Linked DNA regions of Homo sapiens: region 2 is linked to region 1. Evidence: fine-mapped expression QTL. A gene starts in region 1. The other region holds a variant in brackets. All regions are shown on one strand. Distances are between the middles of the regions. Region 1 holds the start of PLGRKT (plasminogen receptor with a C-terminal lysine). Region 2 has its middle 43 kb from the start of IL33.

What was found. PIP is the estimated chance that this variant, and not a neighbour inherited with it, causes the effect.
Region 2: its variant is fine-mapped to the expression of PLGRKT in gastroesophageal junction (GTEx, PIP 0.97).

What each region holds. Positions count from the first base shown.
Region 1 is chr9:5,430,184-5,443,026 of GRCh38, reverse strand. PLGRKT (plasminogen receptor with a C-terminal lysine) reads left to right here and starts at 5,102. Exons shown (of 6, transcript NM_018465.4): 1 at 5,102-5,238; 2 at 6,333-6,458; 3 at 11,044-11,130. The coding sequence starts at 11,050. RefSeq lists enhancers at 3,736-3,895, 5,456-5,545, 4,601-5,800.
Region 2 is chr9:6,166,171-6,179,013 of GRCh38, reverse strand. No RefSeq gene overlaps it. Among named protein-coding and RNA genes, the nearest start is that of IL33, 43 kb to the left of the region's middle. RefSeq lists an enhancer at 11,974-12,475. The variant A/G (reference allele first, on the strand shown) is at 8,100.

The sequences.
Region 1 (12,843 bases):
GAAGTACTGGTACATGCTACAACTTGGATGAACCTTGATCATACTAAGTAAAAGGAGCCAGACACAAAAGGCCATAGATTGTAGGCTTCCATTTATATAAAATGTCCAGAATAGGCAAATCTATAAAAACAAAAAGTAGGTTAGGGGTCCCCAGAAACTGGGGGAATGGGGAGAATGGGGAGTTTGGGGAGTGGCTGCTAATAGGTATGAGGTTTCTTTCTAGGGTGAAGAAAATGTTATGGAATTAGATAATGGTGGTGGTTGTACAACTTTTTGAATGTATGAAAAACCAATAAATTGTACAATTTAAGGTGGTACATTTTATGGTTGTGAATTACATATCTTAATCTTAAAAATCTCTAGGTAGGGAGAGAACAGGATCTGAGTCCACTGATGCCATTATATTACACTGCCACATGGTGTCACCGTTGAGGAATGGATGAAGTCCAAAGAAGGCTTACACAAAGCTTGTGTCCAGGTCATGCCCAAGCTACAGAGGTGCCCCAGGATTGGAGTGAAGGTTAAAATCCAGAATTTGGGGAGCACCATCCCAGAATGGTTTAATATTAAGGAGGTTCTAGCCTCAGCCCCACACTGTGCAACTATTTGCAGTCCTTCACAGACCGAAGTTCTTGGCTAAACCTGGTTCCCAGCTCAATGGGGAAATTCAAATCCTTGTGAAAGCATCTCTGTTAAAAGGAGACACTGCTAGGCACATCTTAAACTTCCAAACACTTTATTTTTTGAAAAACTGCTTCTTTATGGAGGTCCAAGGAAATATTGGGCAATTTTTACTGTCCTGGGATAGGGAGCATCAAATGAGTTGAGGATTTTACATCAATTTTCTCTAAAATATTTATACTACTTAACTCAGTGTATACATATGCATGTGCATATATATATGTGTTTATATATATACACACGTATATATACACACATGTATATACGTGTGTATATACACACATGTATATACGTGTGTATATACACACGTATATACGTGTGTATATACACACATGTATATACACACATGTATATACGTGTGTATATACACACGTATATACGTGTATATATACACACATGTATATACGTGTATATATACACATATGTATATATGCGTATACACACATGTATGTATATATACACATACATACGTACATATACATATACATACATATGTATATATACACATATGTATATATATATGTATACACACATATGTATATATACATATATATACTGAGAAATATCCAGCAATGGAAGTTGTTACATACACACTTATTGAAAATCCTTTAGCTGTTAAAAATGGTAAATATAAATGCAATGTAGCAACATAAAAATCCTTATGTTATAATGCAAGATGATATAAAACACATATTTATATATATGCATAAAAATGTACACATATATATTCACAAATTCATACAACTGAAAATAATTCACATACCAGTTAAAGTTATATGCCATTTGATTCTGAAATAAATTTCCTTTAACCCTCTTACTCCACATTTTATAAAATGTGTCCAATATCTATACCAAGACTTTTTTTTTCAATTTCCTGGGCATATTTTTCTATGGTCACTTTTTTCACTTATGTTTTAAAATTATGAAAAACATCATACATACAAGAAAATTTATAATGTGTGTTTTCGGTTTAACATGTATCCATCAGGAATCAGAATTTTACTCAGTTGGTTTGATTAAAGAGATATTAGTGAAGACACTACTTAAAGGAGTATGACTAAGAGAACCATCCAGTTGAGTCATCCAGAGTCTAGCAACAGCAGGAAGACTGCGCTCTCTCTAGGCTACATAGCAAAGGAGAAAAGTGTTTCCAGAGCCCATGGAGCTGGAGCCATGGAGAAGGGACTGCTTGCCAAGAGCTGCAATTGTGGAGAAACACAACCACCACCAGATACTCAGCCCCAAACAGAGAAAGAACAGAGAAAATATACCCTGATGTCTTTTTCCTCCTGCCTCCCATCTCCCTGAATGCCTCCCGCTGTCCAAACTCAAATGGAAACCAGCTGAGGAGAGCCCAGGTGGTGCCGTCCAAAGAGGTCAGCTTTGGGGTATAGAACAGGGCAGGGAAGTGAGGAGAATGAATATGATGGAAGGCAAACAGAAAACCTAGACAGTCTAATTGTTTTGTCACCCAGAATTTATTCTTTTCCTTTGCTCAGATGAAGAGCAGCTCATCCCTTACATATGAGAATGACAGAGTCTGACAAGATTTCTCCTCGACCAAACTTTAGTCAGGCTCCTCTAAGCCATCTCCTTGATTAGATATTGACCTTGGGCTGCAGTGTTCATCCTTGCAGAATCAGTGTTGGCAAGAATCCTGCTAAGTCAGTTTAGAGAGGATCTTCCCACCCTGAATGTTTGACCACTCTCAATATCTGATCAAATTCCTTACCCCCACCAGCCCCCAGGTGATGTCTGCTTACCCTGGCCTACCTTTAGCAAGAATCCTGTTAGGTCAGTTTAGCAAGGATTTCCCCTACCCTTGCTGTCTCTTCTTAGTAATTTTCCATCCACGGACCCCACCCCCATCCACACAACCTGCTCCTCGGCTATAAATCCCCACTTATCCTTACTGTATTCAGAATTGAGCCCAGTTCTTTACCAAGGTCTCTTTCCCCCTATTTCAAAAGTTGCTGAATAAAAATCTATTTTTACTGCTACAGCTATTGTCCAGCTTTGATTTTCCTTAACAAGCCTCATCAGCTGCCATATTGCCTTGAGGGGATGTCAGTTCAGGCACATTCTCACCCAGAAACTAAATTGTAATATTTATCTCCACCACTACTCTTTATGCAGGGTAATAGGAAAAGAGAGTCAGGGAAGAAGTAATTAACATTTTAAATGGAGAGCTACTATAATTCCTGCCTCTAGAGCTTGTTGCAAGGCTAAAATTAATAATCATAGCTTCCTACTCATTTACTTATGTATGTTTCCCCTGCCCTATGCCAACACCTAGGTAGATCAGGATTTTTTTATCTGGTATGCTTCAACACTTTAATTTCTTCATGATCTGAAATTTCTGCATTACTTCAGTTATCTGATAATCATTATTATGGCACACGGCAGTATTAAGAAGTGCCCAGTGAATCTCCAGGTGTCATGCATAGTTCTTCTTGCCCTCAATATATAGATGTAACCCAATTTCCTTTTGGTATTTGGGATGAATCATACCATTCTGTCACTGTGAGGAATCAAAGTGACCAGAGGGCAGTTTCAGCTTTCGAATCAATGAATTGAAATTCAATTCAATTCAGTGACGGGGTCTTCTAGTGGCAGCATTCCTTCCTTTGGATCTAGGCTTCCAAACACAATAAACCCAAGGTTGTAGAAATGGTGTGCTGGAATACTATGCAGCCATAAAAAATGATGAGTTCATGTCCTTTGTAGGGACGTGGATGAAGCTGGAAACCATCATTCTCAGCAAACTATCGCAAGGACAAAAAACCAAACACCGCATGTTCTCACTCATAGGTGGGAATTGAACAATGAGAACACTTGGACACAGGAAGGGGGACATCACACACCGGGGCCTGTTGTGGGGTGGGGGGAGGGGGGAGGGATAGCATTAGGAGATACACCTAATGTAAATGACAACTTAATGGGTGCAACACACCAACACGGCACATGTATACATAGGTAACAAACCTGCACGTTGTGCACATGTACCCTAGAGCTTAAAGTGTAAAAACAAACAAAAAAAAGAAATGGTGTGCTGGATATTTTCTATTTCTCCCTCCAGGCATTGTGCCTAGTAGGCTGACCTCTACAGACTACACAGACCTAGCTCCACTGTCTTCTGGCTTCCTGGTGGATCCAGCCAGCGGAAGACCCCAGCTGGATATCAGAGCTGGGAGAACAGAGAGGTGGGTCTTCTCCACTCTGTCCCTGCTTTGGGCTGACGTCTCAGCACTGGCTACAACTATAGAATCTCACCTTACTTGGTGAAAAGTTGGCATTGCTTGCTTTCCTCTACTGAACGACACGGTTCCAGTTGGTTACTCTCTCGTACAGCCACAGCTACCGCTCTCGCTCTCGCCTGGTTTTAGTAACTGCTTCCTTCCCCCACCCCTCAGCCCTATAGTTACTAACAGCTCCCCGCTGTTACTGGTTACTACTGGTTACGGAAGGCGAACTATGTGCCCGACACTGTGCTAAATGCCCACATATATTATCTTTTAGTCCTCACAATCCAATAAATTAGATGGCTTTAGTCCTGTTGCAGAGGTGATAAATTCAGAGTGACAGTGACAGAGCTAGAAATTGAAGGTAGGTGTGTTTATGCTAGAGTCTGTGCACTCAAACACGATTCCTTACTTCTTGCATCAGTTGTTAACCTCCCTTCAAGAGTGTCAAACCTCCTGGTAACCCGCCCATTCCCTTAACTGGAAATGAGGGTGCTGTTGCAATTTTCTCATCCAGCCATTCCACAAATGGTATCTGGAATGTGGGACCCACAGTCCAGAATCCTGAGGGCTGCTGTTGAGAGCATCAAGACGCGCCCAGGAGGTCAGGGCGGTGTGCACTCACACGCTGAGCCTGGAGAAAGTTAGACGCCTTCTCCACCGCTGTGGTGGTTAGCAGGGACTTTCCTGAAGGCCAGAGACTGGTGACGTTCATGCTATTTTTCCAAGCCATTTGGTAGCAAAGAACAGAGTGCCAACAATTCAAGCATTCTCTCAGGCTGGGAGAGAGACGTGGCTTATTCAAGATAGAAATTGCTGGTGAGGTTGAGGCGAGACCGACATCTCTCTGAGCAGCAGGGGAGAAAGACGGCTCTGTTCAAAAAAGAATGGGTAATTTCAGTCAATTCTCTTCTTTCTCGTTTCTGTCTTATCTTTATGACTTTTTAATAGTGCCAATTTAACAGATGAGGGGACAGAGGCCTTTAATTGAGAATTCCACTCCGCTTCCTCTGCCTCATCTCAAAAATCTGGCAGCTGAGTCGCCGCGGCTTTGAATTTGCCTCTTTTGACCTTCCCCTCCCACCTCTGGTAACACTGAGCCTGGCCCGGAAGGACACACCCGGCTTCTGGCGGAAGTGCCGGCTCTTTAAAGAAGCTGAGGGCTGCGCGAATTGGCTGAGGTGCGTCATCTACTGTGTCTGGGCGCCAATCCCGACGCTGGGCGGAGCGAGGCCCGGTCCCTGCAGCGGGCGAAAGGAGCCCGGGCCTGGAGGTTTGCGTACCGGTCGCCTGGTCCCGGCACCAGCGCCGCCCAGTGAGTGAACACCGGCCGCAGGCGGGTGGGGAGAAGGGTCAGCCCGGCCATGTCAGTCAGCGCGATCTCCTGGGCTCCGGGCTTGCCAGGCAGCGCTGGGCGCCCGCTCCTCGTGAGCGCCGGCTCTTGGCTCTCGCACTGCCCCTGGTGCTGATAGGTATTGCCAACTTCGTTCCATTAGAGCGCGTTCTTGTCGCCTGGCGTGGACTCCGGATCTCTCCGTAGCTTTAAAATAGAGTTGAGAAAAACAGGCACAGTGCTCTCAACAGAAATCAGCACACTATTGCGGGGAATACCTAAATTACAGTAACTGGCCTCAGGGAGCAAGGGCGGTGTTAATTACAGAAAACCTCCGGAAGCTGTGGGCTCTGGGCTGGAATTTGCAAGGGGATGTGGCTTAATTTCAATGGGATGCAAATATTGAAAATGACTGTGGTGAGACGATCAGTCATACATTCAGGCAATGTGTCATCTGATCGGGAAATAAGTCAGCGTGGTAATCCCGATGACAGAATTCATGCAATTAATTTTTTATGTCCCCCCAAGTAAAATCAAATCTAGGTACTCACGGGTGACCGGAAGAAAGGTTGTCTGGAACTTGCAGGCACCACTTCTCCTCCCCAGAAATACACCTTCCCATAGTAATCTATAGCTCACCTGAGGCAGGGCTGAAGCATTAAAGACCCCTTCCAAGATCTCAGAAGGAATCAAAGGGAAAATGAAGACAGAGGGATTGAAATCAGCATTCTCTGCAAAACATCACTCTGAGACACAGTGATGTTTAAAATTGTATAAGTAGCAAGACATTTTTTTTTACCCCTGGTGAAAAGTGTTAGAATTTTTAAAAGACTTAACTTATACAAGTGAGTGAAATCAAAGTTATCCCTATTGCAAGGTCAATTTTGCTTATTTTCTGATACATATTTTGTGAGCAAGAGGAGATAGCTGAAAGTGTTCTGGACACCCTACGGAATATTCCCAGACTTTGGGAAATGACTTTGCCAGGAATGGGGAAGTTGGGAAAGGAAAGAATGTTGAAAATACTGAACTCCAGGGTGAAATTTACAAGGTGTGATGCATTTATTTATTCTCAGGTGTGGTTTCCCATAAGGAAGCTCTTCTTCCTGCTTGGCTTCCACCTTTAACCCTTCCACCTGGGAGCGTCCTCTAACACATTCAGACTACAAGTCCAGACCCAGGAGAGCAAGGCCCAGAAAGAGGTAAATCTAAATACTAACTTCCCAGACAGTGTTTCTTTCCCAGATGATTGACATGAGGACTCTCTCTTTTCAGGGGAGATCCTAACCCCTTACAAACAGGAGCACTTGAAAGCACACAGCTCTGTGATATACAGGGTATGTGGAGGAATAGTACTAGAGTACAGTTGTTTTCTTTATAAATGTTTGCAGCAGGTGTAAAAATTTAGTCATCCACTCCTATGTTCAGAAGAAAAATAAGTAATGGCAAGTGGCCTGAGCCACAGTTTTTCTTGTATCTCTCATGCTTTGTGCAAATATTTAGGGGAAGTAGACACCATGGAGACTATCAAGATGGATAATATCTCGCTCCTAACCTCAGGCAGGTTCTGGTCTGCTGTTAGAGATGAGTCGCATGGGACTGTTAGGGTTTGGAGAAAGGAAAGAACTGCCAAATCACCCTGCTGTCAGTGAGTGGCCTCTAACTCTGGTCACAGGGTGCTCGAGTGGCACAGTGGCAGAAGGGGAGGGAAATCTCACCACCTCAGGCCTTTTCAGCATTGTGCCTCTTCATCCTGGTAAGTGGTTTGGTATCCTGTGCTCAGCTTTGAAGCTGACTCTGGCACAGAGCCCTGAAACTCCAGGTGTATCCTTGATCAGAATACAAGGAAGTCACTGAAGTCTTGCTTGCAGCTCCCACTCACCTGGAACCCCATTAGCTGGGCTTCCCACAGAATACTTGGGAATCCTGGCTGTAATGAATTAAGACTGGCCATTCTTACCTGAGGTTCACAACCCTACTCAACAGCCTATTAAAGAGAAAAGGTATCAGCAACATTGTTGAGAAGGGTAGAGCAGTTGTAACTTTCCCCTGAGTTTTGCAGTATTCTGAAATGCAACCAACTAACTCAAGGTCTTCTGTACCCACCCAGTTGGATTAAGAATAAAAATTGGAGTTCTGTCCCTTGTAGAGTTGACAGCCCACTTAAAAACTTACATAAGATAGACACTACTGTGCATTCATCTAAAAAGTACATTTTCCAGGACATTCAAGTATCTGTATGTTTTTCCATTTTTGAGAACTTTAGTACATGCTATCTTGGAGAGAATGAGAGTGAAGCTGGAGGAGGATGGCTAAGGCAGTTAGCAGTGGGTGGATGGAAATAAGGGGCATGTAGGAGAGGGACAGGGATTGTGGTGGGATGACAGGAAGAATAACTGGTCTACTGACCTTGAGACAGCTCAATCTTCTTCTTTTTTTTTTTTTTTTTAGTATTTATTGATCATTCTTGGGTGTTTCTTAGAGAGGGGGATGTGGCAGGGTCATAGGATAATAGTGGAGAGAAGGTCAGCAGATAAACACAAGAACAAAGGTCTCTGGTTTTCCTAGGCAGAGGTCCCTGCGGCCTTTGGCCCTGTTTGTGTCCCTGGGTACTTGAGATTAGGGAGTGGTGGTGACTCTTAACGAGCATGCTGTCTTCAAGCATCTGTTTAACAAAGCACATCTTGCACCACCCTTAATCCATTTAACCCTGAGTTGACACAGCACATGTTTCAGAGAGCAGGGGGTTGGGGGTAAGGTTATAGATTAACAGCATCCCAAGGCAGAAGAATTTTTCTTAGTACAGAACAAAATGGAGTCTCCTATGTCTACTTCTTTCTACACAGACACAGTAACAATCTGATCTCTCTTTCTTTTCCCCACATTTCCCCCTTTTCTTTTCGACAAAACCGCCATCGTCATCATGGCCCGTTCTCGATGGTCGCTGTCTCTTCGGAGCTGTTGGGTACACTTCCCAGATGGGGCGGCCAGGCAGAGGCACACCTCACTTCCCAGACAGGGCGGCCGGGCAGAGGCGCTCCTCACTTCCCAGACGGAGCGGCCAGGCAGAGGCACACCTCACTTCCCAGACGGGGTGGCGGCCGGGCAGCGGTGCTCCTCACATCCCAGATGATGGGTGGCCAGGCAGAGGCGCTCCCCACCTCCCAGAGGGGGCGGCCAGGCAGAGGCGCCCACTTCCCAGACGGGGCGGCTGGGCAGAGGCGCTCCCCACCTCCCAGACAAAGAGCAGCCGGGCAGAGGTGCCCCTCACTTCCCAGGCGGGGCAGCCGGGCAGAGACACCCCTCACCTCCCAGACGGGGCGGCGGCCGGGCAGAGGTGCTCCTCACTTCCCAGACGGGGTGGCGGCCAGGCAGAGACGCCCCTCACCTCCCAAATGGGGCGGCCGGGCAGAGGTGCTCCTCACCTCCCAGACGGGGTGGCCAGGCAGAGGCGCCCACTTCCCAGACGGGGCGGCCGGGCAGAGGCGCTCCCCACCTCCCAGACGAAGGGCGGCCGGGCAGAGGCGCCCCTCACTTCCCAGGCGGGATGGCTGGGCAGAGACACCCCTCACCTCCCAGACGGGGTGGCGGCCGGGCAGAGGCGCTCCTCACTTCCCAGACGGGGTGGCGGCGGGGCAGAGACGCCCCTGACCTCCCAGACAGGGTGGCAGCCGGGCAGAGGCACTCCTCACTTCCCAGATGGGGCGGCCGGGCAGAGGCGCTCCTCACTTCCCATTTGGGGCAACGGGGCAGAGGCGCTCCTCACTTCCTCCCAGACGGGGCAGCCGGGCAGAGGCGCTCCTCACTTCCTCCCAGACGGGGCGGCCGGGCAGAGGTGCTCCTCAATTCCCAGATGGGGCAGCCGGGCAGAGGCGCTCCTCACATCCCAGACGGGGCGGCCGGGCAAAGGCGCTCCTCACATCCCAGATGATGGGCGCTCAGGCAGAGACGCTCCTCACTTCCCAGACGGGGCAGCCAGGCAGAGGCACTCCTCACATCCCAGACGGGGCAGCCGGGCAAAGGCGCTCCTCACATCCCAGACGATGGGTGCTCAGGCAGAGACGCTCCTCACTTCCCAGACGGGGCAGCCGGGCAGAGGCACTCCTCACATCCCAGACGGGGCGGCCGGGCCAAGGCGCTCCTCACATCCCAGACGATGGGCGCTCAGGCAGAGACGCTCCTCACTTCCCAGACGGGGCAGCCGGGCAGAGGCACTCCTCACATCCCAGACGGGGCGGCCGGGCAAAGGCGCTCCTCACATCCCAGACGATGGGTGGTCAGGCAGAGTCGCTCCTTGCTTCCTAGACGGGGTGGCGGCCGGGCAGAGGCACTCCTCACTTCCCAGATGGGGCAGCCAGGCAGAGGCGCTCCTCACATCCCAGACGGTGGACGGTCAGGCAGAGATGCTCCTCACACCCCAGACGATGGGCGGTCAGGAAGAGATGCTCCTCACATCCCAGACAACGGGCGGTCAGGCAGAGACACTCCTTACTTCCTAGACGGGGTGGCCAGGCAGAGGGGCTCCTCACATCCCAGACGATGGGCGGCCAGGCAGAGATGCTCCTCACTTCCTAGACGGGGTGGCGGCCGGGCAGAGGCACTCCTCACTTCCCAGAGGGGGCGGCCAGGCAGAAGCGCTCCTCACTTCTTCCCAGACGGGGTGGCTGGGCAGAGGCGCTCCTCACTTCCTCCCAGACGGGGCGGCCGGGCAGAGGCCCTCCTCACATCCCAGACGATGGGCGGCCAGGCAGAGACGCTCCTCACTTCCTAGACGGGGTGGCGGCCGGGCAGAGATGCTCCTCACCTCCCAGACAGGGCGGCCAGGCAGAGACGCTGCTCACTTCCTAGACGGAGTGGCGGGCGGGCAGAGGCTGTAATCTTAGCACTTTGGGAGGCCAAGGCAGGCGGCTGGGAGGTGGAGGTTGTAGCCAGCCGAGATCACGCCACTGCACTCCAGCCTGGGCAACATTGAGCACTGAATGAGCGAGACTCCGTCTGCAATCCCAGCACCTCGGGAGGCCGAGGCGGGCAGATCACCCGAGGCCAGGAGCTCGAGACCAGCCCAGTCAACACGGCAAAACCCCGTCTCCACCAAAAATACAAAAACCAGTCAGGAGTGGTGGCGCGTGCCTGGAATCCCTGGCACTCGGCAGGCCGAGACAGGAGAATCACCGGAGCCAGAGGCAGGGAGGTTGCAGCGAGCCGAGATCATGGCGGTACAGTCCAGGCTCCGCAAGAGAGGGAGACCGTAGAAAGAGGGAGGGGGAGGGGGAGGGAGAGGGAGAGCTCAATCTTCTTAAAACGCAAATGCAAAGAGCACAAAGAAATATGTTCTTAAGACGCACAAGGCATCTTCTTAATCATCCCTCCTCAGATGCAAAGGTTCTGTTGCCTAATTGTACAGAGGTAAGAAGATGGATGGTATCCACCCTTCCCCTCACAAAAAAAGAGAGTTGTTTTTTTCTTCAAGAATTCAGTTCTTCAAGATTTATGGTGGGAAGAAAAATCAGGAAACAGCCATATACTTATAGAGCAGGGAAGGATTTTGGAAATTATCTAGTTCAATCAGTTGGTGTTAGGTGAGTAAAATGATGGCCAGACTCGTTAAGTATGCCTGAGGTCAGGCAGCTAGTTAGGAGCAAGAACTAGAATCCACACTGTGTTCCTAGATCAGAAATTTTACTTTTTTTTTTTACTTTGTCATAAGCCCAAGGTAGCTCAAAGTGGAGCATACAAGAATGCATGTAGTGTATTATTATAAGTCTCCTTGCTTTTTTTACATTTTAGGTCAAAATGGGGTTTATATTTTCAAAATCTATGAATGAAAGCATGAAAAATCAAAAGGAGTTCATGCTTATGAATGCTCGACTTCAGGTATGTTTTAAAATAATTAAGCTATTATGTTGTTACAATGCTTAAAGTTTCTACCACATGTACTCCAGCCGTACATTCTCTTTGACTCCCAACAATAAAATGTTCTTTGGGCTGCATCCTTAAAACCAAGATAAAATGGCTTACTAATTATCTGGTGAATGGGCTAATTTAAATCTCCAATCCAGATAAATTTGTGTAAAAATTTCCATTCTGTAGGAAGAGATAACTGCTTAGAGTATGTGGTACATAGAATAATGCCCCCCACCCCCAAAGATAATGTTTGAGATGGGGAGATTATCCTGGATTATGCAGATGGACTCATTGTCATCACAAGGGTCTGTCTTTTTTTTTTTTTTTTTTTTTTTGAGAGAGTCTCACTGTGTTGCCCAGCCTGGAGTGCAGTGGTATGATCTGGGCTCACTGCAACCTCTGCCTCCTGGGTTCAAGCGATTCTTGTGCCTCAGCCTCCCTAGTAGCTGGGATTGCAGGCATGCACCACCACTCCCGGCTAATTTTTGTATTTTTAATAGAGACAAGGTTTCACCATGTTGGCCAGGCTGGTCTCGAACTCCTGGCCTCAAATGATCTACTGGCCTCAGCCTCCCAAATTGCTGGAATTACAGGTATGTGTGCCTGGCCCACAAGGGTCTTTATAAGAGAAAGAAGGAAGCATGAGAGTCAGTATAAGAGAGATTTGAAGATGCTACACTGCTGGCTTTGAAGATTGTTTAAGGATCATGAGTCAAGGAATTCAGGAAGCCCCTAGAGGCTGGAAAAGGCACGGAAACAGATTATTCTTTAGAGCCTCTACAGGGATGCAGTCCTGCCAGCCCATTTTGGACTTCTGAACTTAGAACTGTAAGATAATAGATTGGTGTTGTTTTAAGCCACAGACTTCGTATAATTTGTTACTGCAGCAATAGGAAACTAACATGGAGTGTGAAACCTTAACATTGGATTTAGACGTGGCTGGATAGAAAAGATCAAAGCACTGCAGAAGATTATCTAATTGCCTAATACAGGTTGTAAAAAACATTTTAAAATGTTGCAAGTCAAAAAATCAAGTCTTAAAAGTTTGACCCGAATTATTTTCCTAAGATTTCAGACAAAGATGTCTAGGCCTCTGTGGCCCATTATGGCTCTGGGAGTAGAAAGTCCTCTGGTAAGGCATGTAGCTAGTGGTTAAAAATGAAGACTAAAGCCAGACTGCCTGAGTTTGAATCCCAGTCCCACCCTTGACTAACTGTGTGACTTGTGCCTCAGTCTCCTGATCTGTACACTGGAGGTAATAATATCCCCTTCAAAGGGATGTTTTAAAGATTAAAGATGAAATATATAGAACAATGCCTCAAGTTTTTAGAAAAATGCTTCTCACCTCATAAATATTTGTTGCTGTTGTTACTATTATTGTTTTTAATGACTGACAAGAGTGTCTTATGCAGAATAAATATCTCTTTGGGGACAATGAAACAATTGAAAGAATGGACAACTGAATTATTGTAACAGAGCAGTGACCTAGGCGAGACCAAGTATTAGGTTTACAAATCAGCCAGCTATCCGATGCTTAGCACGTCCTTGTCAAAGACCTTTGGAAACTACAGGGTTTTTACTCTTATGTTGGTCCCCATGAAGTCAGGGTCTGTGAAGGGTCTGGGATTTTACCCTACTTGCAAGCTAACGTGTTAGCCTATTACAGAAGACTGGAGACAACTA
Region 2 (12,843 bases), 740 kb before region 1:
GACAAACAGAGAGCCAAATCATGAGTGAACTCCCATTCACAATTGCTTCAAAGAAAATAAAATACCTAGGAATCAAACTTACAAGTGATGTGAAGGACCTCTTCAAGGAGAACTACAAACCACTGCTCAATGAAATAAAAGAGGATACAAACAAATGGAAGAACATTCCATGCTCATGGGTAGGAAGAATCAATATCGTGAAAATGGCCATACTGCCCAAAGTAATTTACAGATTCAATGCCATCCCCATCAAGCTACCAATGCCTTTCTTCACAGAATTGGAAAAAACTACTTTAAAGTTCATATGGAAACAAAAAAGAGCCTGCATCGCCAAGTCAATCCTAAGCCAAAAGAACAAAGCTGGAGGCATCACGCTACCTGACTTCAAACTATACTACAAGGCTACAGTAACCAAAACAGCATGGTACTGGTACCAAAACAGAGGTATGGATCAAAGGAACAGAACAGAGCCCTCAGAAATAATGCCGCATATCTACAACTATCTGATCTTTGACAAACCTGAGAAAAACGAGCAATGGGGAAAGGATTCCCTATTTAATAAATGGTGCTGGGAAAACTGGCTAGCCATATGTAGAAAGCTGAAACTGGATCCCTTCCTTACACCTTATACAAAAATCAATTCAAGATGGATTAAAGACTTAAATGTTCGACCTAAAACCATAAAAACCCTAGAAGAAAACCTAGGCATTACCATTCAGGACATAGGCATGGGCAAGGACTTCATGTCTAAAACACCAAAAGCAATGGCAACAAAAGCCAAAATTGACAAATGGGATCTAATTCAACTAAAGAGCTTCTGCACAGCAAAAGAAACTACCATCAGAGTAAACAGGCAACCCACAAAATGGGAGACAATTTTCACAACCTACTCATCTGACAAAGGGCTAATATCCAGAATCTACAATGAACTCCAACAAATTTACAAGAAAAAAACAAACAACCCCATCAAAAAGTGGGCGAAGGACATGAACAGACACTTCTCAAAAGAAGACATTTATGCAGCCAAAAAACACATGAAAAAATGCTCACCATCACTGGCCATCAGAGAAATGCAAATCAAAACCACAATGAGATACCATCTCACACCAGTTAGAATGGCAATCATTAAAAAGTCAGGAAACAACAGGTGCTGGAGAGGATGTGGAGAAATAGGTACACTTTTACACTGTTGGTGGGACTGTAAACTAGTTCAACCACTGTGGAAGTCAGTGTGGCAATTCCTCAGGGATCTAGAACTAGAAATACCATTTGACCCAGCCATTCCCATTACTGGGTATATACCCAAAGGACTATAAATCATGCTGCTATAAAGACACGTGCACACGTACGTTTATTGCGGCATTATTCACAATAGCAAAGAGTTGGAATCAACCCAAATGTCCAACAATGATAGACTGGATTAAGAAAATGTGGCACATATACACCATGGAATACTATGCAGCCATAAAAAATGATGAGTTCATGTCCTTTGTAGGGACATGGATGAAATTGGAAATCAACATTCTCAGTAAACTATGGCAAGAACAAAAAACCAAACACCGCATATTCTCACTCATAGGTGGGAATTGAACAATGAGAACACATGGACACAGGAAGGGGAATATCACACTCTGGGGACTGTTGTGGGTTGGGGGGAGGGGGGAGGGTTAGCATTGGGAGATATACCTAATGCTAGATGAGGAGTTAGTGGGTGCAGCGCACCAACATGGCACATGTATACATATGTAACTAACCTGCACATTGTGCACATGTACCCTAAAACTTAAAGTATAATAATAAAAAATAAAAAATTAAAAAATTAAAGAAAAATTCACCTGTGTTAGTTTCCTATTTCTACTGTAGCAAATTACCACAAATTTAGGGGCTTAAGACAACACAAATTTATTCTCTTATAGTTATAGAGGTCATAAGTACAAAATCAGCTTCACTGGGCTAAAGTCAAGGTGTCAGCAGGACTGCACTCCCTCTGAAGGCTCTGGAGGAGAATCCGTTTCCTTGCCTTTTCCAGCTTTTAGGGGCCATTTGCATTACATGTCTCATTGCACTTTCCTTCATTTTCAAAGGTAGCAGTATAACGTCTTCAAATCTCTCTCTGCTTCCATGATGGCATCACCCTCTACTGTGGTCAAATCTCCCTCTTTCTCCTTCTTACAAGCACACTTGTGATTATATTTAGGGCCCACCCAGCTAATACAGGATAATCTCTTCATCTAAAAAAAATTACTAATTTAATCACACCTGCAAAATCCCTTTGCCATATAAGGTAATATTCATAGGATCCAGGGATCAAGACTTCGATATATTTGGGGGCCATTATTCAGCCTACCACACTCCCTCTTATAAAGACCCTTGCAATTACATCATTGGGGCCACCTGGAATTAATGCAAGGTACTTTCTCTATGTCTAGATCCTTAACATAATCACAACTGTAAAGTTCCTTTTGCCATATAAAATAACATACTTTATTCACATATTCAGGGGTTAGAACACAGACATCTTTGGACAGCTATGGTTTATCACCTTTCAAATCTATTCTATGGAAATTGGCCTTTTAATGTTTTCTATTTCTTAGGTCAATTTTAGACATTTGTATTTTGCTAGGAAATCAGCAATTTCCTCCTGGTTCTCAAATTTGTTTTGACAGATGTGCATATAATATTCATATACATATATATATATATATATATATTTTTTTTTTTTTTTTTCTGTGACAGGGTCTCACTCTACTACCCAGGCTAGAGTACAGTGGCACAATTATAGCTCACTGCATCTTCAACCTCCTGGGCTCAAGCAATTATCCTGCCTCAGGCTCCTGAGTAGCTAGGTCTACAGGTATGAGCCACCATGCCTGGCTAGTTTTTTAGTTTTTTTGTGGGAGACAGGGTCTCACCATGGTGCACAGGCTATTTGAACTCCTGGCCCCAAGCCATCCTCCTGCCTTGGCCTCCCAAAGTGCTGGGATTACAGGCATGAGCCATCATACCTGGCTCTTACAATTTTTTAAAAAATCTCTTTCTTTGATAGTTATCATTTTTCATTCCTAATCATGTATATTTTTTCTTGTGGGCATATTTTATTTTTGCCATAATCAGGCTCATGAAGCTTGTTGTTTTTATTGGTCCTCTCAAAGGAATAGTTTTTCAGTTGATGCATTCTTCTTCCATGTAAAAAAATTTCTATTTCATCAATTTTAGCTTTTATTTTCTTAGTTTGGGTTTTTGATTGCTTTTTCTAATTTTTAAGATCGTATTTATTTATATTATCTATTTCTTTTATCCAAATAGAAATTTATTTTTCTTTCATGTGTACTTTCATTTTTCTTTCTTTCTATACTCCTATAGGCAGTATAGGAGTGTTATGGTTACTCCACCATCATTAGGACTTACAGGTTTCTTTTTGAAAAGTGTTTTTGATTTTTAAATTTTTAAAAAATTGATATTTAATAGTTGTACATGCAATATTTTGATACCTGCATATAATGTGTAATGAGAAAATCAGGGTAATCAGGATGGCCATCACTTCAAACATGTATCTTTTCTTTCTGTTGGGAGCATTACAAATCTTCTCTTCCAGCTACTTTGAAATATACAATAAGTTATTGTTAACTATAATTTCCCTACTATACATCAAATACTAGAACCTATTCCTTCTATGTTTTTGTATCCTTTAACCAACTTCTCTTCATCCCTACCTCCCTCGCCTTTCTTTTACATCCTCTGGTAAGCACCATTTTAATCTCTATCTCCATGAGATCCACTTTTTCAGCTCCCACATATGAATGAGAACATGCGATATTTGTCTTTCTGTGCCTGGCTTACCAAAGGCCTCCAGTTCCGTCCTTTCTCACTGTCTTCCTTTGTGGTTAAGTGATTTTCTCTGGTAGTATGTTTTAATTCATTGCTTTTTATTTTCAGTATATCTATCATAAGTTTTTGTTTGGTGGTTAATATGAAGATTACAAAAAATTCTATAGTTATAACAAGTTACTTAAAACTGATTCCAACTTAGCTTTGATCACAAAAAAACAAAAAGAAACAAACTAACAAAATAAAACCTTATACATATTAATTCCCCTCTCCTCACACATTTTGAATTTTTGATACTGCAATTTACATTTTTATATTGCTAATCTCTTAATAAATTGTTGTAGTTATTGTTTTTAGTAGTTTTATCTTTTAGTCTTCTTAGTAAAGATTTAATTGATTTACACACCACAATTACAATATTAGTGTAACAATCACATTGGTATCCTTTTCTTTTGGCCTAAAGAACTCTCGTTAGCATTTCTTGTAGGACAGGTCTGGTAGCAACAAATTCCCTCAGCTTTTGTTTGTCTAGGAAAGCCTTTATCTCTCCTTCGTTTCTGAAGAATAGCTTTACTGGAAACAGTATTCTTGCTTTGCAGTTTACTTCTTTCAGCACTCTGAATATATCATCTCACCTCTCCTGGCCTGTACAGTTTCTACTGAGAAGTCTGCTGCCAGGCATTTCAGATCTACCTTATCTGTTATTTGCTTCTTTTTTCTCATTGCTTTCATAATCGCTTCTTTGTCTTTGATCTTTGAGAGTTTGATTGTAATACCTAAGGGTATTCTTATATGGGTTGAAAGTGATTGGTGACCCTTGACCTTCCTGTACCTGGATATTTATATCTTTCTCCAGGTTTGGAAGGTTTATGTTATTATTTCTTTGAAAAAGCTTTCTACCTTCTTGTCTTTCTCATTTCCCTCTTTAACTAAGTAACATGAATGATTGCTCTTTTATTGTTGTCCTGTCATTCCTGTAAGCTTTCTTTATACTTTTCATTCTTTTTTCTCCTCTGACTGTATATTTTCAAATATTCTGTTTTCAAGCTCACTGATTGTTCAGCTTGATCAGTTCTGCTGATCTATTGCATTTTTCCTTTCATTCATTGTATTTTTCAGCTCCAGGATTTCTGGGTTTTTTTTTTTTTAATTATTTTAATCTCTGTTAAATTTCTCTGATACATTTCTGAATTGATTATGTGTATTTTGTAGAAGTCAATCAAGCTTCTTAAAACAGCTATTTTGTATTATTTGTCTAAGAAAGTGCATATCTCTATCCCTTTAGGGTCAGCCTCTGGCACCTTAGTTTTTCCATATGAAGAGTCATATTTCCGTGTGTGTTTTTAATGCTGTGAACATGAAATGATGTCTGCGTATTGATAGGTTAAGTATTTATTTAATATTTTAGTCTTTGTAGTCTAGCTTTCTTTGTGCTTATCCTTGTAGGGATTCTATACAGTCTGACTATTGTTTTCTCTGAGCCTCTGACCTCTGCAGCCATCTCAGCAGTAGAAGATGCTCTAAGTACAGGCTTGCTGCAAGTCTCATGAGGACTATGAGATTGGCACAGCTTTCCAGCCCAGAAGGATCAGGGGAAGACTCAAGGAGGGTACTTGGGCTGTGTGGGAATGCTGGACAGGGACCTGAATCCAGAAGACTGTCCTGGTGGCCAAGATGGATGGCTATCCCCAGTTGGGGACCCATCCCACCTGTGCATGCCTCTCAGCAGGTTTCTGCACATGTGGGATGGGTCCCCACCTGCAGCAAGGGAGGCTGGAGTTGAAATTGGTCCCTCTCAGGATCTGTTATGGGAAGGAAGCTGATGGGCCTATTTTGTTGGCTCAGACAGATATATGTCACCCAGCAGTACCCTGCACAAGCAGGGTAGTTCTTCGACTGCAGCAGGAAAGACCAAAGCTGAGGCTGGACCTCCAAGGGACCTGCTGTGAGACAGACACTGGCATGCTTATCCCAGTGGTTTATATGGGTACGCATCTTCTAGTAGGTCTCTGGATAGATGGGATAGTTCTGTGCAGCAGGGGGAGTCAGAGCGGTTACTAGGGCCCCTCAGGATCTGCTGTGGGACAAGCTGAAGAGCCCTTCTCATTGGCTTAAACAGGTATACATCTCCAAGCAGGTATCAGCATAGATGGGATAGTTCCCCAACTGCAGCAGGATGGAGTGTTGCTGAGATGGGGCCCCCTTGACATCTGCTGTGGGGCAGAACCTGGAGAGCCCTGTCTCATTGGCTCAGAGAGACACATTCTCCCAGCAAGTTTCTGTAAAGATGGAATAGTTCCTTGGTTGCAGTGTGAGAGGCCAGAGCTGAGACTGGGCCTCCTTGGTATCTGTTGTGGAACAGAGGTTTACAAGCTCTAGCCTGTCTGAGAGGCTCAGACTACTGGGCTGCAAGTTATGGGCAAGTCTCCCTCTGGATCCTTATGTAAGCAGCTCTGAGCTGGGACCTCACCTGAGGGGGCTGGAGCAGAACCAGAGAGCAACGTTCAGATTGACTGCCAACACGACTGTCAGTGGGTAGATGAGCCTTTCTATTAGTGTGCACAATTCCTTCTTGACTCCTCGGCAGATGGCTTTGGTTGCAGGATCAAGGCCAAGTGGGGTTGTATCCAAACCCCTTGGGAGACTGGGTCATTTTCTGGCTTGAACCCAGGAACAAGCTTGGTGGATCAGCCACCTATGTGTAGGTCTTCCCTCTGCAAATGATCCTCTGATGTCTTGGACTTCACTAGGGTTTCACAAACTCCTACCTCAATCCTGAGGCTCCTGCAGAGTGACTTTTTACCATGGATGGATGCAGAATTCTTATAGGGAGATATGAGCGGGTTACCTTCTATTCTGCCCTCTTGTCACTTCATTTTTATATGATATATTTCTGATTTTATTGGATGAGGATCAGAGTTTGTGGTTTTAAAAATCTTTACTGTTTTATATTTTAATGTTTTTTGCAGCAAATACAATTTTTGTACAAATCATGGTCATATAAAATATATATTGTCAATTCTAAGGATATATGCATTTATTATATCAAGTTTTGTTTGTGTTATTGTGAAAATAAGTAATTCAAAGTCAAAGCTGTTGGAACTCTAAATTATTGTGAGCCTTAAAAAATGTGAATTATGAGGCTTGAGTCACATCACAGGCTGCTGTAACCTAGGCAGCTAGAACCTTTTTTCCTCTAGTTATGGGTGAAAGCTTTTCCCTTACCTGCATTGTTTTGTAAAATGTTGTAAATGGCTGAAGGATGCCAGGGAAGACCCTCTTTCCTCTACACTATCGACTTTCATTAAAAATTAACCTCCCTCTTTCCTTTCTCACACAAAGAATTCATGGTTATCACATTGCCTTAAGATGGAATGTTAAATACACTCTTTTAAATTTGAAAGGAAATGAAAACCAGCTGTAAAGAAAAGAAAACAAGCCACACAGAAAAGAAAACAAACTGTAACTAATTAATTTGTTGTTAGAATGCTTTCATTTCCCATAATCTGTTTTCCACCCACTACTATCAAATCCTAGAGTTTTTAAAATCATATTTTAAGATCCAAGTATTGAAATATTTAGTACTCTAAGACCCAAAGATTCTTATATTTTTCCTTGCAATATGTAGTTTTTGTTTTAAAAATCCTTATTTAGAATTAAAATTATAATTTCTTGGTCACTCTGCCACTATTCACTTATATTTTTCTACATATAGAGCCAGATGTATTGCTTATTACTTCTCCTCTCCCCTCATTTTGAAATCTCTGTCCTAACATTTGTAGTTTAGCAGTGTTTTTCTCACATGAAGTATGTGATTAATGTTCTCTGAATTCCTGAGTTTCTGCAAATATATATTTTTATCCTGACAGGGCTAGACAGTGAATTTTTGGGTTTCAGCTCACTTTTGGAGGTAGCCTATAGAAATAACGTAATTCATTTTTAGATTTTAGTATGTATTCAGGAAGTTTGATGCCTATCTGATTCTTTTTCCTTTGTAAGTGTGGCAGACACACTTGGTTACCCACTCAACATCTACTGGCTTCCTAACATCAGCACTGATTTTCTCAGGTATTATCCTATTCTCCATGGTATTTATCCCATTTCTTGTTCTGGAATTGTAGATTTTGATTTGTTTAAGTCAATCATGAAAAGGTCATTTACTTCTAATTAGCTTAGGAGTGAGCATGTGACTCTGCTCTAGTCAATGATACATCAAGGAAAGTCTAGTAAGAAATATTTTTTAGAAAAGTTTTCTAGCATTTGAGATCACT[A/G]CTCTATCAATTAGGAAAGTTTTCAATTCAAAATAACATAAAACAAAAATGACCTTTAAAAATTGGGGGATAGTTTTCTCAGATAGCAAAAAGCCCAGAGGCAGGCAGTTGCTGATGTTGCATTTCTGATATCAGGGCATATACATCTCTAGTTTCTTTGACCTTTCCCTCATAGTTGCAAGATGGCTGCTGCAGTTCTAGCTCCAGTCATCACTTCAAAGCAAGAAGAAGGAAAAATAGGTAGGATAATGTCTGTACCACATGCTACTGTCCTTTCATATCAAGAAAGCTTATGGTTTCCCAGAAACCATTTAGCAAAATATATTAGATTGGTCAGGGTTCTTCAGAGAAACAGAATATATATATGGAATATAATGTAAATATATATATTTACATATATGTGTGTGTACATATATATGATGAATAAATATAAATAAGGAATGGTTCACAGTATTATGAAAGCTGGCAAGTCCAATCTGCAGAATGGGTTGGCAGACTGGGGACTCAAGGATAGCTGATGTCCCACTTTAAAGGTCATCAGTCAGGAAGAGCTGATATTTCTGATGAAGTCCAAAGGCCATCTGCTGGAAAATTCTCTCTTACTCAGGGAAGAGTCAGACTTTTTGTTCTATTTAGGCCTGATAGAATAAGGCCCAGCCACATTATGGCAAGCAATTTGCTTTACAGATTAAAATGTTAATCTCATCCATAAACACCCTTGAAGATACACTCAGAATAATGTTTAAACAAACATCTGGGGACCCCATGGTCCAGTCAAGTTGACACATAAAACTAACCATCACACAAACTTCTTTCTGCTTACATCTTATAGTCCAAAATTATATCACATGGTCACCCTTGACCAAAAAGAAGTCTTAGAAAGTGTGTTTAGCTGGGCACAAAATCAAGGTTCTTTTAGTGAAGAAGAAGAGGATGGTGGATCTTGGATAGGTAATCAACAACTACTGCCACTAAGCTACTGCCACTAAGATGGTGGATCTTGGATAGGTAATCAACAGCTACTGCCACTAAGACAAGAGGAGAGACAATTCGTTTGCTGCTTTTGGACATTGTGATGCTGTAATTTTTGCCATGAAAGAAGGTAGTCTGAGGATAAAGCAGAATTATTAGTTTGAAAAAAACCTGGTCTGTCTTTACTGGTGCAGTTAGGCCACTGAATTAACTAACTCTAGAGTGGTTTTACCCCTGGGCTTTGTGTGTGTACGTGTGCACGTGTGTGTATATGAGATATGTATATATACAGTTTCCTTATTTTTAAAGTCACTTTGATGTTTCTGATACTCACCACCAGAAAGCATCTTTATTAATATAATAGCATAGATTCTTTCTGTCTGGAAGTTTTAAAATTTATCCTAAAAGTTTAGAAATTTTATCAGGCTTTTTATTTTTCCAGCATTCCTATACATAACTTGAATACTTCAAACTGCAGATTTAAAATTTTCTTAATTTCAGGAAAATTTTCTTCTAATAGTTTAGTATTATTACCTTGTCTCTATCTGTTTTTATTTCTCGTTCTAGAACTTCAGTTATCCATGGGTTAGGTTTATTTAGCCTGTAGTCTCTTGGGTTTTTTTCCCTTACAGTTCCTATCCCTGTATATTTTTTACTCTGTGTATTATGTCTCCCACTTGATCTTGCAAATACTGCCTTTTATGACACCCCAAATATCACAATTCAGCCTCTCTACCAAGCTGAATTATCCAATAATTGCTTTATGTCAAAAAACAATGAGAGGTAAGACCTACTAGTGATATATGACGCAGGATTTCAGTTTTCAACTTTCTTGCCTCCTAGTTATCCACAGACATTACAAATTTTAATATTTTTCTTTAAAGATAGATTGAACTTTAAGCAATTTTTGTTTCTGTGGGATTAGAGGAGAATAAGAATTCTAAGAATTCAGTAACATAAGACTGTGACTTTGCGATAGACGTTTTAGTGAGCTAATGTGATTCAAGTGGCCTTACAATATGTTCAACAAATATTTTGGCATTACAAAAAGAACTTTTTCAAGTTTATTTTTTAGTTTTCTTGACAAAGTGGTTAACCAAAAGGATCTTCTGTGGGTGGACAAGGATTGAGAAAACTAAATAATTAGATCCATTGAACCTATTGTGGCAGAAATGCAGTGGTTCTATATGGACCTAAACAACTGCAATGTGCACTGTGCTGCTTAAAGCACAGAGGATACAAAGAAAAATGATGCACAGTTCCTGAGTTCAAGGCCATACAATCAGAAGGAGTGTGGGGTCTCATGCACTTGACTTAGGAAAGGAAGAGCATTGAGCTCTGACATGTTCCCTCCTGATGCACCTTTAAAGGACGTATCCCTAGGTCCCAGAGAATGCAAATTTGAGGAGGTGCTCATAATATAATTTTATCTGGGAATTGGGTATAATCATTTCTTGTGTCCTGGTATCATGTCAAAATACCACTTGAAGTATTTTCTTTTCTTGATAATGGATTCTTCTCATAACCCCTCTGACAGGAAGATTAGCCTCTGAGGCTGAGGTTTATTGCCCTAGAGAAGGAAAGGCAGATACTGTCTAGGCAGAAAGAAATTGCTCAGCTCTGAGTTTAAAACCAGGCTTTTGAAAGTCCATGGTGAGAAAAGGGTTAGTTTTTACGGAAATCCCAAAACAGAACCTGGAACGTTGAACATAGATTAAATCTTAGACTGGGGACATCCTACCACACATAAAGGAGGTGACTTGGGTGGGAAGGGAGGTTCATAAATAATGGCTTGTTAGCCCCCCAGTATATTTTGATTTTGCTATATTTATATCTCTTTAAGTGCTCTTGTTATTAGGTCAAATTGTTGTTTATTTCTTCTAGCAGCTCTGGTCAGTTTTCTCCTATGGCTCATCTCCACCCTCTGGCTCCAGCAGCTTCTAGGCTCTGAACAGTTCTATAGTATGGACTGCAGTTGGGGCACTGGAACACAAGGATGTTCACAAGAATGTTCAGCAAGTTTTTTTTTCTTTCAGCCACTTTTATTTCCTTTTAGAGACAGGATCTTACTATCTTGCCCAGGGTAGTCTCCACCTTCTGGGCCCAAGCAATCTTCCCATCTCAGCTCTCCAAGTAGCTGGTAATACAGACATGTGCCACTGCACCTGTCTCAGGCACTTTTAAACAATTACGTTCTCACTTGATATGTAATTTTTGCTGCAGTAGACACTTAGCTTTTATGAATTTAACTTTTTCAATGATAACTCTTTGCAAGTGATCACACCTTCCCATCATGTGTATTCGAGATCATACCTTCCCATCATGTGTGTTTGAGTATTTTTTATTTATTGTTTCACTTATTTACATATATTTTCTTTAATTTTTTGGAGTCAGGCTCTCACTCTGTTGCCCAAGCTGGAGTGCAGTGGTGCAATCATGGCTCACTGCAGGCTCAACTTCCTGGGCTTGAAGCAATCCTCCTGCCTCAGCCTCCCAAATAGCTGAGACCACAGATACATGCCATGATGCCTGGCTCATTTTTCAATTTTTCTTTTTTTTTTTTGAGACAGAGTCTTGCTCTGTCGCCCAGGCTGGAGTGCAGTGGTGCGATCTCGGCTCCCTGCAAGCTCCGCCTCCCGGGTTCACGCCATTCTCCTGCCTCAGCCTCCCAAGTAGCTGGGACTACAGGCGCCCGCCACCAAGCCCGGCTAATTTTTTGTATTTTTTAGTAGAGACGGGGTTTCACCGTGTTAGCCAGGATGGTCTTGATCTCCTGACCTTGTGATCTGCTTGCCTCGGCCTCCCAAAGTGCTGGGATTACAGGCGTGAGCCACCGCGCCTGGCCTCAATTTTTCTTTTGTGGAGACAAGGTCTCGCTATGTTGCCCAAATTATTTAGGTCCATACAAAACCACTGCATTTCCGTGACAATAGGTTCAATGGATCAAATTCCTTAGTTTTCTCAATCCTTGTCCACTTACAGAAGATCCTTTTGGTTAACCCGTTTGCCAAGGAAACTAAAAAATAAATTTGAAAAGGTTCTTTTTGTAATGCCAAAATATTTGTTGAACAGATTGTGAGGCCACTTGAATCACTTTAGCTCACTCCTGGGCTCAAGTGATCCTGAATGAGAGTTATTTTAAAGCTGGAGTTACTTTGACAAAGAGCATGCCTCTCTGACCGCTCAGCTGTGTCTCGTCTTGCCTTTGCTGAATTTCACTCACTGTAGCATATTACATTTGTGAAAGATGGAAACGAGTTTTCACATGTGAAAAATGGCTATCAGAGGACGGGAAAACTTTAGTAGAAGTTGAAAGGGAGTTAACACCTGTGGCTTGAGAATATGCACAGAAAACAGGAGACTCTCAGTGGGATCTATGATTTGAGGGAAGGTCAGGTACCTGCCTAAACATTTCTATGTTCACAAATATGGACATTCATGACCATCTTTGAACATGTTCATGTTGTGTGTTAAAGTTTTATTGTTTTGAACCATGATTTCTTATTAGTTAATTACCCTCAAACTCAGAACAAAACTGATTAAGTTGCTCACTAACAGCATGTGATCACTTTCCAAATGTGTCTTTTTCACTTAGTTTGCAAAAAAAAAAAAAAAAAGTGTTAAAATTCTGCCTTCCAAGTCAGTTTTGATCTGGTAGCTCACATTCTTATTCTTCACAAAGAAAAATACCTTTTGTGCATGTGATTTATTGCCTCACTGAATCCTACCCCGGCAATACTTGAAATAATATTCTTTTCATATCACTCCAAGA